3 linked regions of the Homo sapiens genome follow. Changing the gene in region 1 together with any one later gene gives a genetic interaction. Each region holds a gene or a part of one and is shown in the gene's direction. Other genes may lie near its edges. The genes, in order: TMEM131L, PTAR1 and GBF1.

Evidence for each region.
Region 2: changes in TMEM131L (region 1) and PTAR1 are lethal when combined (synthetic lethality), as found in Homo sapiens cells (one study listed by BioGRID).
Region 3: changes in TMEM131L (region 1) and GBF1 together harm fitness more than expected from each alone (negative genetic interaction), as found in Homo sapiens cells (one study listed by BioGRID).

Annotation. Positions count from the first base shown.
Region 1 is NC_000004.12:153,602,283-153,605,939, forward strand, and holds part of TMEM131L (transmembrane protein 131-like isoform 1 precursor), read left to right. Parts: coding exon 1-56; intron 57-259; coding exon 260-445; intron 446-1,020; coding exon 1,021-1,170; intron 1,171-1,519; coding exon 1,520-2,148; intron 2,149-3,657.
Region 2 is NC_000009.12:69,709,003-69,712,153, reverse strand, and holds the end of PTAR1 (protein prenyltransferase alpha subunit repeat-containing protein 1), read left to right. Parts: 3' UTR 1-2,629; downstream 2,630-3,151.
Region 3 is NC_000010.11:102,360,522-102,364,178, forward strand, and holds part of GBF1 (Golgi-specific brefeldin A-resistance guanine nucleotide exchange factor 1), read left to right. Parts: intron 1-500; coding exon 501-599; intron 600-1,196; coding exon 1,197-1,391; intron 1,392-1,953; coding exon 1,954-2,143; intron 2,144-2,734; coding exon 2,735-2,875; intron 2,876-3,188; coding exon 3,189-3,277; intron 3,278-3,657. UniProt on the Homo sapiens protein: Guanine-nucleotide exchange factor (GEF) for members of the Arf family of small GTPases involved in trafficking in the early secretory pathway; its GEF activity initiates the coating of nascent vesicles via the localized generation of activated ARFs through replacement of GDP with GTP.

The DNA of each region.
Region 1 (3,657 bases):
CTGGATTGTCATCAGTTTTCCCTGGACCCAAACACATCCCGCGATATCAGCATTGTGTAAGCATTGGGCTTTAACTTGATTTCAGTTTTGTGGTGCGTTTAACAATGTGAGGAGGAAAACTTTTTCTATTGTTAAGACATCTTATGTTGTTTTAATGTAAATATTTCTTTTGTAGGAGTATGATGTGTTGTCATTATTTTGCCTTGTGGCTAAAATCAAAACAATTAAAAGTTCATAAAGATGACTCTTTTATTTTCAGGTTCACTCCAGACTTTACCTCCTCCTGGGTAATTCGGGACCTAAGTCTTGTAACCGCAGCGGACCTAGAATTTCGCTTCACTCTCAATGTGACTCTCCCTCATCACCTGTTGCCCTTGTGTGCAGACGTGGTTCCAGGACCCAGCTGGGAGGAGTCATTTTGGAGGCTCACGGTCTTCTTTGTCAGGTAAACCACTACTGTCTCCCTTGTTCTCTCACTGAGTAGAGAAGTCATCCAGGCAAGTTGTGTGAAAACGTGAACTGCCCGAGTGTAGTCAAAGTATATGAATTGAGTGGAATTGTTACTGCTTCAAGAACTGTGACATCCATGAAGTATTCACTGGTACACTTTAAGGTTATAGTAAACTAATCGTAAGAGAGTCATAGGACCTAGAAGTATCATAGACAGTTGTGCTCCATATATAGTGTGTTCATAGGCAGTCATGGTGGATGATATGAATGTTAATTACTTGTGTTAGCTCATGCAGTGATGATTTGAGATTAGGAGGCTGGAATGACCCTTTTTGAGTGATTTCATAAAAATGGAATTGTAATGTCAAATTTATAAATATGCACAATTTTGGAAACTTTTGTGTGTGTGTTTAAGGAACATCAGAAATTATGTGATAAATCTTAGGGAATTTTAATACTGCATCTTCAGATGTTTTTCGTAAATCATTCCCCACTCTTCTGTAATGAAACTAGTCTTTTGAATGCCAGTCAGAACCATGCAATACTGAACCTTGTTGCTTTCTTCCTCAGTTTGTCCCTGTTGGGTGTGATTTTAATAGCCTTCCAACAAGCACAGTACATTCTCATGGAATTCATGAAAACAAGACAGAGGCAAAATGCTAGCTCCTCTTCACAGCAAAACAATGGTCCTATGGATGTAATCAGCCCCCATTCTTACAAGTAAGAATTCTTATAGTGTGGTTGGGAGCGGGGGCGGTTTCTCACTTTTGATATTACTCATTTCTGATTTAATTTTAAGTAAACATAAATTTTGATTCTACATTTGCTTTCATAAAATTTTAAGTCATTATGTGAACAGCTGCCCCATTATTATTATGAGATAGTCTCCATGCAAGGACTTAGTTGATGGGTATTCTCATTGGCAGAAAACTCTTGGAGCTTTGGAAGAAGGGAAGGTAAAACTTACACTCAGTACTGATTGCTACCCTTTTCTCATGGATATGGAAGCAGACAAGTAGAGTTTGATTTGATTTGCCTCTATGCTAAATGTTTTTCTTCTTAAATTCAGAAGCAATTGCAAGAACTTTCTCGATACATATGGCCCCTCTGATAAAGGCAGGGGGAAGAACTGCCTTCCAGTGAACACTCCCCAAAGCAGGATCCAGAATGCTGCAAAGAGGAGCCCAGCCACCTATGGTCATTCTCAGAAGAAGCACAAATGCTCAGTGTATTACAGTAAACACAAAACCAGCACAGCTGCGGCCAGCAGCACCAGCACGACTACTGAGGAAAAACAGACTTCACCCCTGGGCAGCTCACTGCCTGCTGCTAAAGAGGACATTTGCACTGATGCCATGCGTGAGAACTGGATCAGCCTCAGATATGCAAGTGGCATAAATGTCAACCTGCAGAAGAATTTAACCCTTCCCAAAAACTTACTGAATAAAGAAGAAAACACACTGAAAAACACAATTGTTTTCAGTAATCCTTCTTCAGAATGTAGTATGAAGGAGGGAATACAGACATGTATGTTTCCTAAGGAAACTGACATTAAAACTTCAGAGAACACAGCCGAGTTCAAGGAACGGGAGCTCTGTCCACTGAAGACCTCCAAGAAACTACCTGAAAACCATTTACCAAGAAACTCACCTCAGTACCACCAGCCAGACTTGCCAGAAATTTCCAGGAAAAATAATGGTAATCTTTTCATCCCCTTTGATAATTCTCTCCTGTTTGTACCCAGTCTGTTTTTAATGGAATTGTTCTCACCTGTGACCGTTAGTTTTAATTGTGGATGCTGAGTTTTAGCAAAGGTTTAAATATTGAAAAAAGACAAAATGAAAAGTTCAAGACAAGACATCAAGCTTTTAAAATGTTGTGACTAAGAGGTTTAAATTTTAGTACATAAGTTTAGAAGACTATGAATATCATATTTTCTTGTTGGGATGGACATGGACACCTTTTTCTAATTTTATTTATTTATTTATTTGAGATGGAGTCTTGCTCTGTCGTCCAGGCTAGAGTGCAGTGGTGTGATCTTGGCTCACTGTGACCTCCGCCTCCTGGGTTCAAGTGATTCTCTTGCCTCAGTCTCTCGAGTAGCTGGGATTACAGGTGTGTGCCACCACACCTGGCTAATTTTTGTAATTTTAGTAGAGACGAAGTTTCACCATGTTGGCCAGGCTGGGCTCAGACTCCGACCTCAAGTGATCCACCCCTTTGGCCTCCAGAAGTGCTGGGATTATAGGCGTGAGCCACCGAACCTGGCCTAAATTATTTTTTTTAGCTCAGATTTTCAGACTATCTGTAAAAATTAATCAGCCCATGAAATGTTTCTGACTGAACAAAACTTCAGCTATTTTATTTAACAGCTGCCACCATCTCAGGTTGCCTGGCCCTGGTTCTTCTCTAATTGTATTCCTTGGTTAAAAGAAGACAGATGTTCTCATGTACCAAAAACAGTTAAGGAAAATACAAGCCAAAGTAGACTAGGAGGATGACCTCCATTGGGAATTGTCATTATCCTTTAATAGATCCCTTTGGCCTCTAGCATAAGGGCCTGTGCTTATTTATTTTCTTTTTTTGTCCACCCTGACCATTTGAATATACGTATTTCTGTACCTGTTATAGTCAGATTTGTTTTATTTTGTTTGAAATAAGGTCTGGCTCTATCACCCAGGTTGGACTGCAGTGGCGCAATCTTGGCTCACTGCAACCTCCACCTCCGGGGCTCAAGCCATTTTCCCATCCCAGCCTCCTGAGTAGCTGGGACTACGGGCACATGCCATCATGCCCAACTAATTTTTGTACTGTTTTGTAGAGATGGGGTTTCACCATGTTAGCCAGGCTGAGCTCGAGCAATCTGCCTGCCTTGGCCTCCTAAAATGCTGGGATTACAAGCGTGAGCCACTGCTCCCAGCCTATGGTCAGATTTTTGACAATTTTTAATCTGGAAAACTCAGTCACCTTTTGTCTTATTTGAAGCATCTAAATATAACTTCATCTTTTTCACTTCTTGATATTGGAGAAGAGGTACAGAAATATTATGGATTGACTACTTCTGATGAGCTTTTATGCATTTGGTGAAAATCCTCAACTGAATTTTAAATGTTCTGTATAAGGACATTTCTAATTTAAAAGAAAGTTGGAGTCCTCTGAGGGGAATGTGGTCTAGGCAGCTGCACACATGCATTCTTGGTGCATTTA
Region 2 (3,151 bases), on another chromosome or scaffold:
GCTTATTTATCATTATAAGGTGATAGGTAATAAATTTGAGGTTTACTTGTCATATAATTTCATATGGCAGATATTGATTCAAGGAGCATTCTATTAGAAAAAGTTGATAAATTATCCTCCCTTACAAATATCATCTTGCATTTGGAGCAGGTATTTTTTTCTTATTAGTTAAAGACTGGGTACAGTTATAGTAGATGCTCAATAAATGCTTAGTCAGTGATTGATCTAACATCAAACTAACAGCTTTCAGAAAGGAGACTGTTGACATCTTTTCACCAAGGAGTATATTTGTAGAGTAATATATGTGTGGAATTTTGAAATTATATCATTTGACATGATTTATGAGGCTTATTTAAGCTGGAGTTAGTAACGTAATAGAAGTATTATTTATACAGAACATAGTTGAAAGATAGGAGATGTGAAAGATTAAGTAGTATTTTCTTGTGCAAGGCATATTAATAAATGTAATTAAATGTCTTAATAAGCAGCTGGCTGAACTCTAGAGAGAACTGCTGTAGTCTTCTGCAATCAGTCTCTGTATTGGTATATCCAGTACTATCGGGTTTAGGTTCTTTTTATTTTTCCTTAAATCTTACTTGTTTCTAGCGTCTTAAGAGTGGTAATGGTAAAATGTGAAGTTACAATAAACTTCTGCTTGTTTTCTCAGAACATCTTTGGCATGAGGAAGAACTTTTTGTGAATGATACAGTAGTCTCAGCATCTGTTAATTTGTGGTTTTCAAAGCATTTTTGACAGAGTTTACCTAATGTAAAAAGATTAAACAGTTTTATAAAACACAAATAAACATTCCTACCTGAACTGTGAGGAACAGAGTGTATAGTACAAATGTAATTAGGCATTGCCTCCTGGCGAGGTTCTTGATGCATGACTTCGATGCTGGCTGCTGACTGAGGTGACCACTGTCAGTATTGTACTTTGGCATATGTTGTTTTTAGGAAAATAATGGAATGCATTCTTAGATTAACTTACTGTTTTTGAGTTGGAAAAAATAAAAGATGAGGTATTATAAGTATGCCAAATATTTATACACTACAAAAGATTAAAAAAGGAGAGGGAGAAAAAAAAAGGCCAGTTATGATTTTAATAGCGTCTAATTTTTTTTTGACTCGAATTTTGTGGACACTAGTCAATTGCATAATTTAACATGGAGGAGCTTTCATTTAAAAGAAGTTCTCAGCTACTATATTCTGCCATTAAAATTAACCATGCCTGTTAATTTTACATTGCTTGAAGATATAAGTAAGCTGCCGTCAATATTGTTTTAAGATTTTCTTATAGTTTATGTTTAAATGGAAAAGTTACATATATAATCTATGGTGCAGGGTCAGGCATTGGCCATTAAAGATAAGTTTGGCTAACTATTTTACTGAAGAGACTAATGGTCTTCCCTCTGTTGTACTGCTATGTTTCTTGATCTGTTTTTCCCCAATGTAACAGTCTACATTGAAGTCCTTTAGCTCTCTCCATATACTAATTGACATTTGTTAAGGATTCAATATTTTGTGAATTCTTTTTACCCTTAAAATGCATATCTTTCAGAGAGATAAGAATGAATTTTGCAATAATTTATATGCAGAGTGTGCTTATGGGTTTCTGGGAGTTCAAGTTAGTACCCCAGAGTGCTTAAAAGTATGATGCTAAATTCTAAGGCTAATGTAATGACTGTAGATTATCTATGTCCACATTGTTCAACAGAAATATAATGTGAACCACAACATAATTTTTAATTTTCTAGTAGCCATATTAAAAAAGAAACAAGCAAAATTAATTTTAATAACAGTTTATGTAACCCAGTATATTAAAAATATCATTTCAACATGTAATCAATATAAAAGATTATTAATGAAACACCTTATCTTCTTTTTCTTCCATACTAAGTCTTAGATTTGAGTGTATTTTGCACTCACAGCACATCTCAATTCTGACTGGCCACATTTTAAGTGCTCAGTAGTCACATATGGCTAAGGGCTACTATACTGGACAGTACAGATTCATAGAGTATAAAATATGACTTTAACTTTGGAGATGGTGAGGTAGGCCTGTAATTATGGTACTTTAAAAATTCAGAATATTTAGAAAAGCATCTAATAGAATTATCCACTTGTTTTCCTTCATCTTCATTTTAATATGTTCTAGAAGTAGGATCAGCCTGTTCCAATTTGCCAAGCATTATTAAGGAGGAATAATTCCATACCATGTAAAATACCATGATATGCTGATTATACTACATTAACAAATTTTTAAGTTGCGTTCACTAAATTCTGTCCTGTTTCTTCAAAATAATATAGCTTAAATTGCATGTTAATTGTATATCTTACCTATTTTGTTTTTATATTATTCTTACAATATAATCATGTATATTAACAAACAGCCCTGGGATTCTAATCTTCCTCTGCAACTGTCTTCCAGGACTTACTGGCACTTATTACACTGTGATAAGTGGCAGAAAAGTAGAATGAAATATTCTTTTTCCATTAGATTTGTTCTTATGTGACCATGTACCAAGCCAGCTATAAAGTATTGTATTTCTGTAGAATATGGAAAATAGTATTTGTCTTACCTTTGCTAAATGTTTGCAATTTCTAAGTAAACCTTTTATCTCCTAAAATGAGTGTTAAGTGTGATTTTGTTTTTACTTTTGGTGCTTTAAACTTGAGTCTAGTCTACCAAGCTTTCCATTTTATTTGCTTTGATGGTGGTAGGGGGGTGGAGGTGTGAACTGTTGTCTAAATGAAACCAATAATTTTATGACCTACATTTGTAGAAAGAATAAAAATGCCACTATGTCTAGAACATAAAAGAAATGTCAAAAACAAATTAGAGATATCGCCACAGTTGTTTTTAAATTGTATTAACAGTGACTAATTGCCTTATAAAAGTTATTATGACTAGATACGCTTTTTCCCATCCATTTCAAATGAAGCTGTAGAGCACATATAATTACTCGGTTATTTTAGTGTTACATCCTATGTTTTCTCAATCCTGAGTCTCACTTCTGTATGTTATAAGCCAGATATAGTGGTCTTACTTACACAATATAATACATAGATAGACTCCAAAAAGTGTTTGATAAAGTGGATACTTTTTTTAACTCAAATTTTAAATATTTCAGAAGTGTGTTATGGGAAAG
Region 3 (3,657 bases), on another chromosome or scaffold:
TTTAGTAAGAGGGTTCCAGTAGTTCCCCAGGGACTCTGGCAGCCAGAGAGAAATATAGGAATGGCTAGATGTAGAGTTCCCTGGAAGCAATGGACCTCAGTGACACCTTCACTCAGTTTGCCTCTTCTGCCTCTCTTGGTTGAGCCATAGTCAGCTTCAGAAACCTCACAGCCGGGCTGGGTGCAGTGGCTCACGCCTGTAATCCCAGCACTTTGGGAGGCCAAGGCGGGCGGATCACGAGGTCAGGAGATTGAGACCAGCCTGACCAATGTGGTGAAACCCAGTCTCTACTAAAAATATCAAATTAGCTGGGCATGGTGACGTGCGCCTGTAATCCCAGCTTCTTGGGAGGCTGAGGAAGGAGAATATCTTAAACCCAGGAGGCAGAGGTTGCAGTGAGCTGAGATTGCGCCACTGCACTCCAGCGTGGGCAACAGAGTGAAACTCCGCCTCAAAAAAAAAAAAAAAAAACTCATGGCCTACCCTGCTCTCATCTCCAGCTACTCAGCATAGAGCGACTAAACCTTTATGCTGCTTCCCTGCGAGTATGCTTCCTACTGTTTGAGAGCATGCGAGAGCACCTCAAGTTCCAAATGGAGGTGAGTTTCTTGATGTGGAAAGAAAAGGGGGAAAAAAAATAGGGAGATATATGGCATCTTCAGTGGGGCCAGCTCTATCATGCTACAGGGGTAGGATTTAGGGACTTCCTATAGGAGAGTCCTTTTAGCCTCCAGAGTTCGGTTCAATCAACTGGCCTCTTTTGTGGAAAAGTTAAAAGGAGACCAAAGGAAACTGGCTGACCCCAAATATGAGAACTGCCAGGTAACCTTACCATGAATAGGGACAGCTCTTCTGCCCAGCAGTTACTCTGCAACACAGGTAGGTAAGTCAAGCCAGCATTGTCACTAAATTGCTAAAAGGAACTCTAAATAGGACCAGGTCATGTTCACATAGCACAAAAGGGCAAGAGGCAACTTGTCTGGGACCAGGTATGTGGTAGAGAGCCAGGCCTTATCCCCCAACATGGAGGCCAAAGAAGAGATATATTTAGGGGATGGAATACCTTTGGGTGTCTCTTAATACATGCCTCTAGGCTGGGCTTCTGCATCCTGTTTAATGTTTTTCCTGTCTAATTTTTTCTCTTCCTATCTTGAATCCTTTCCCCACCCAAATGGCAATTACTGGGTTATTGCCAGATGTACATCAAAAAGCTTATGGAGATCATCACTGTGGAGAACCCCAAGATGCCTTATGAGATGAAGGAGATGGCACTGGAGGCCATTGTGCAGCTCTGGCGCATCCCCAGCTTTGTCACAGAGCTCTACATCAACTATGATTGTGACTACTACTGTTCCAACCTCTTTGAGGAACTCACAAAGCTGCTGTCCAAGGTGCTGAGCACTATAACTGGCTTCTAGGAAAAAACGCATTATAAAGGAAATCTCCCTGGTGGTAGTGAGGATGTTACATACAGAGAGGGGAACACTTGAGAGCTGGGAAATAGAAGAAAGGCATTTTCTTTTCTTTTCTTTTTTTTTTTTTTTTTTTTTTTTGAGATGGAGTCTCACTCTGTTGCCCAGGCTGGAGTGCAGTGGCGCGATCTCGGCTCACTGCAAGCTCCACCTCCCGGGTTCACACCATTCTCCTGCCTCAGCCTCCCGAGTAGCTGGGACTACAGGTGCCCACCACCACGCCCGGCTAATTTTTTGTATTTTTAGCAGAGACGGGGTTTCACCATGTTAGCCAGGATGGTCTCGATCTCCTGACCTTGTGATCCACCCGCCTCGGCCTCCCAAAGTGCTGGGATTACAGGCATGAGCCACCACGCCCGGCCAGAAAGACGTTTTCTAAGGGCAATGTACAAGTTAGAAGAAGTTTTGGAAATTTTAGAAAATGATCAAAGTGTAAAGTGTTCTCCTAACTACAAGTCCAATTGATCTGTTTACTTTCCAGAATGCCTTCCCTGTGTCTGGTCAACTCTATACAACACACCTACTATCTCTTGATGCCCTATTGACAGTGATTGACAGCACCGAGGCCCACTGCCAGGCTAAAGTCCTCAACAGCCTCACCCAGCAAGAGAAGAAGGAGACAGCCAGACCAAGCTGTGAGATAGTAGATGGCACCCGAGAAGCTAGCAATAGTGAGAGGCATTTCTTTCTTTGATGAACCCAGTGTTCTATGCTTATCCCTTCTCTACTCTCTGAGTCGTTTTTCCTGTCCCCATATCACTTCCCCTGGGATGCTCCCAATTCTGTTTCTGGGCTTTGGCAGTTTAAATCACAGGCCAGTCAGGCAGATTAGTAGAACTCATAGCCTTCTCCCTTTTTCCTCCTCCCCACTTTGGTTTTTTACAGAATTATTATTTCTTTATGGCAAGAGAAGAGAACAGAGATTAAAGAATATAGGATTTCTGTCTCTGAAAGCTCCAGGTCCCACCATCCCTCATCCCCAATATCTGCCTCCACTCTAATTAGTCCTCTCTAGCTCCCCCTTGAAATTTGAGGTTGCAGAAGATCAGGGAAAGTGACTGGGTAATCTCTTCATTAAATTAGAGAATCTAATGCTTGGCTGGGACAGGGACTACTTATTTTGGCTTGGGTTTGTCCTGCTCAGGGCTGGCGCCCTGTGCAGGAACCATGCAGGTCTTCTGGGCTTGGGATTTGATCTATCCTGCAGCTCTGCTTGGCTTCATACCCTATAAGTCTTCACGTATCTTCTTCTCTCTTACCAGCTGAGAGAACTGCCAGCGATGGGAAAGCTGTAGGCATGGCCTCAGACATCCCAGGCCTGCATCTGCCAGGTGGAGGGCGGCTGCCACCAGAACATGGGAAATCAGGATGCAGTGATCTGGAGGAAGCTGTTGACTCTGGGGGTGGGTACTGGGTGTCCATGACCCTAAGCTCCTCACCTGGAGGGCCTGGTGAAGAGCAGAGGGAGGGAGCAGACACCTAGGATAGTAACTAAGCAAGCCTTGGTAGCCCGCCTCGCCTTCAGACTCAGAGAGAGGGAAGCAAACATATGGACCCTCAGTTGATAGGACTTCCAGGGAAGTGGAAGACTGGTGAGGACAAGATTTCTGAGGCTCCTTCTTGAAACTGGGGAGTATATTGGTGACCTTCCAAAAGTCCTTATCTGGGTAAAAAAAGGTGTTACAGATATTTCCCCCCTCTTCTTCCTACTCCTAGCTGACAAAAAGTTTGCCCGGAAGCCACCCCGATTTTCCTGTCTCCTGCCAGATCCACGGGAACTAATTGAAATTAAAAACAAAAAGAAGGTACATACATGTATTCCCCAGCCTCTGTCCACCTCTGTCTGGGTGTCCAGTGTTGTAGGGTTTCCATCTCAGAAGATGAAGGAGAGTCTAGCACCTCATTGTACAGCTTCCTGAGGCCAGTCTTTGGGCTTGTTGGGACTTCAGCAACTCCCATTTGAAGCCCTTCCCTTACTCCTAAGCTATGTAGTTGAGCATACCCTATGTATGCCCCTGCGCAAATGCTGTACCAGTTGAGAGCCAAGTGTCACTAGTGGCAGTGACAGGAGCCTTGGGAGTTGGTGTCTTGTGGGTCATTGAAGGTTACTGTCATCTCCAGCTCTTGCAAGATGATTGGCAATAAAGGGAAATTGATATTCATTCTGGTGCTTTAGTAAGGTTCA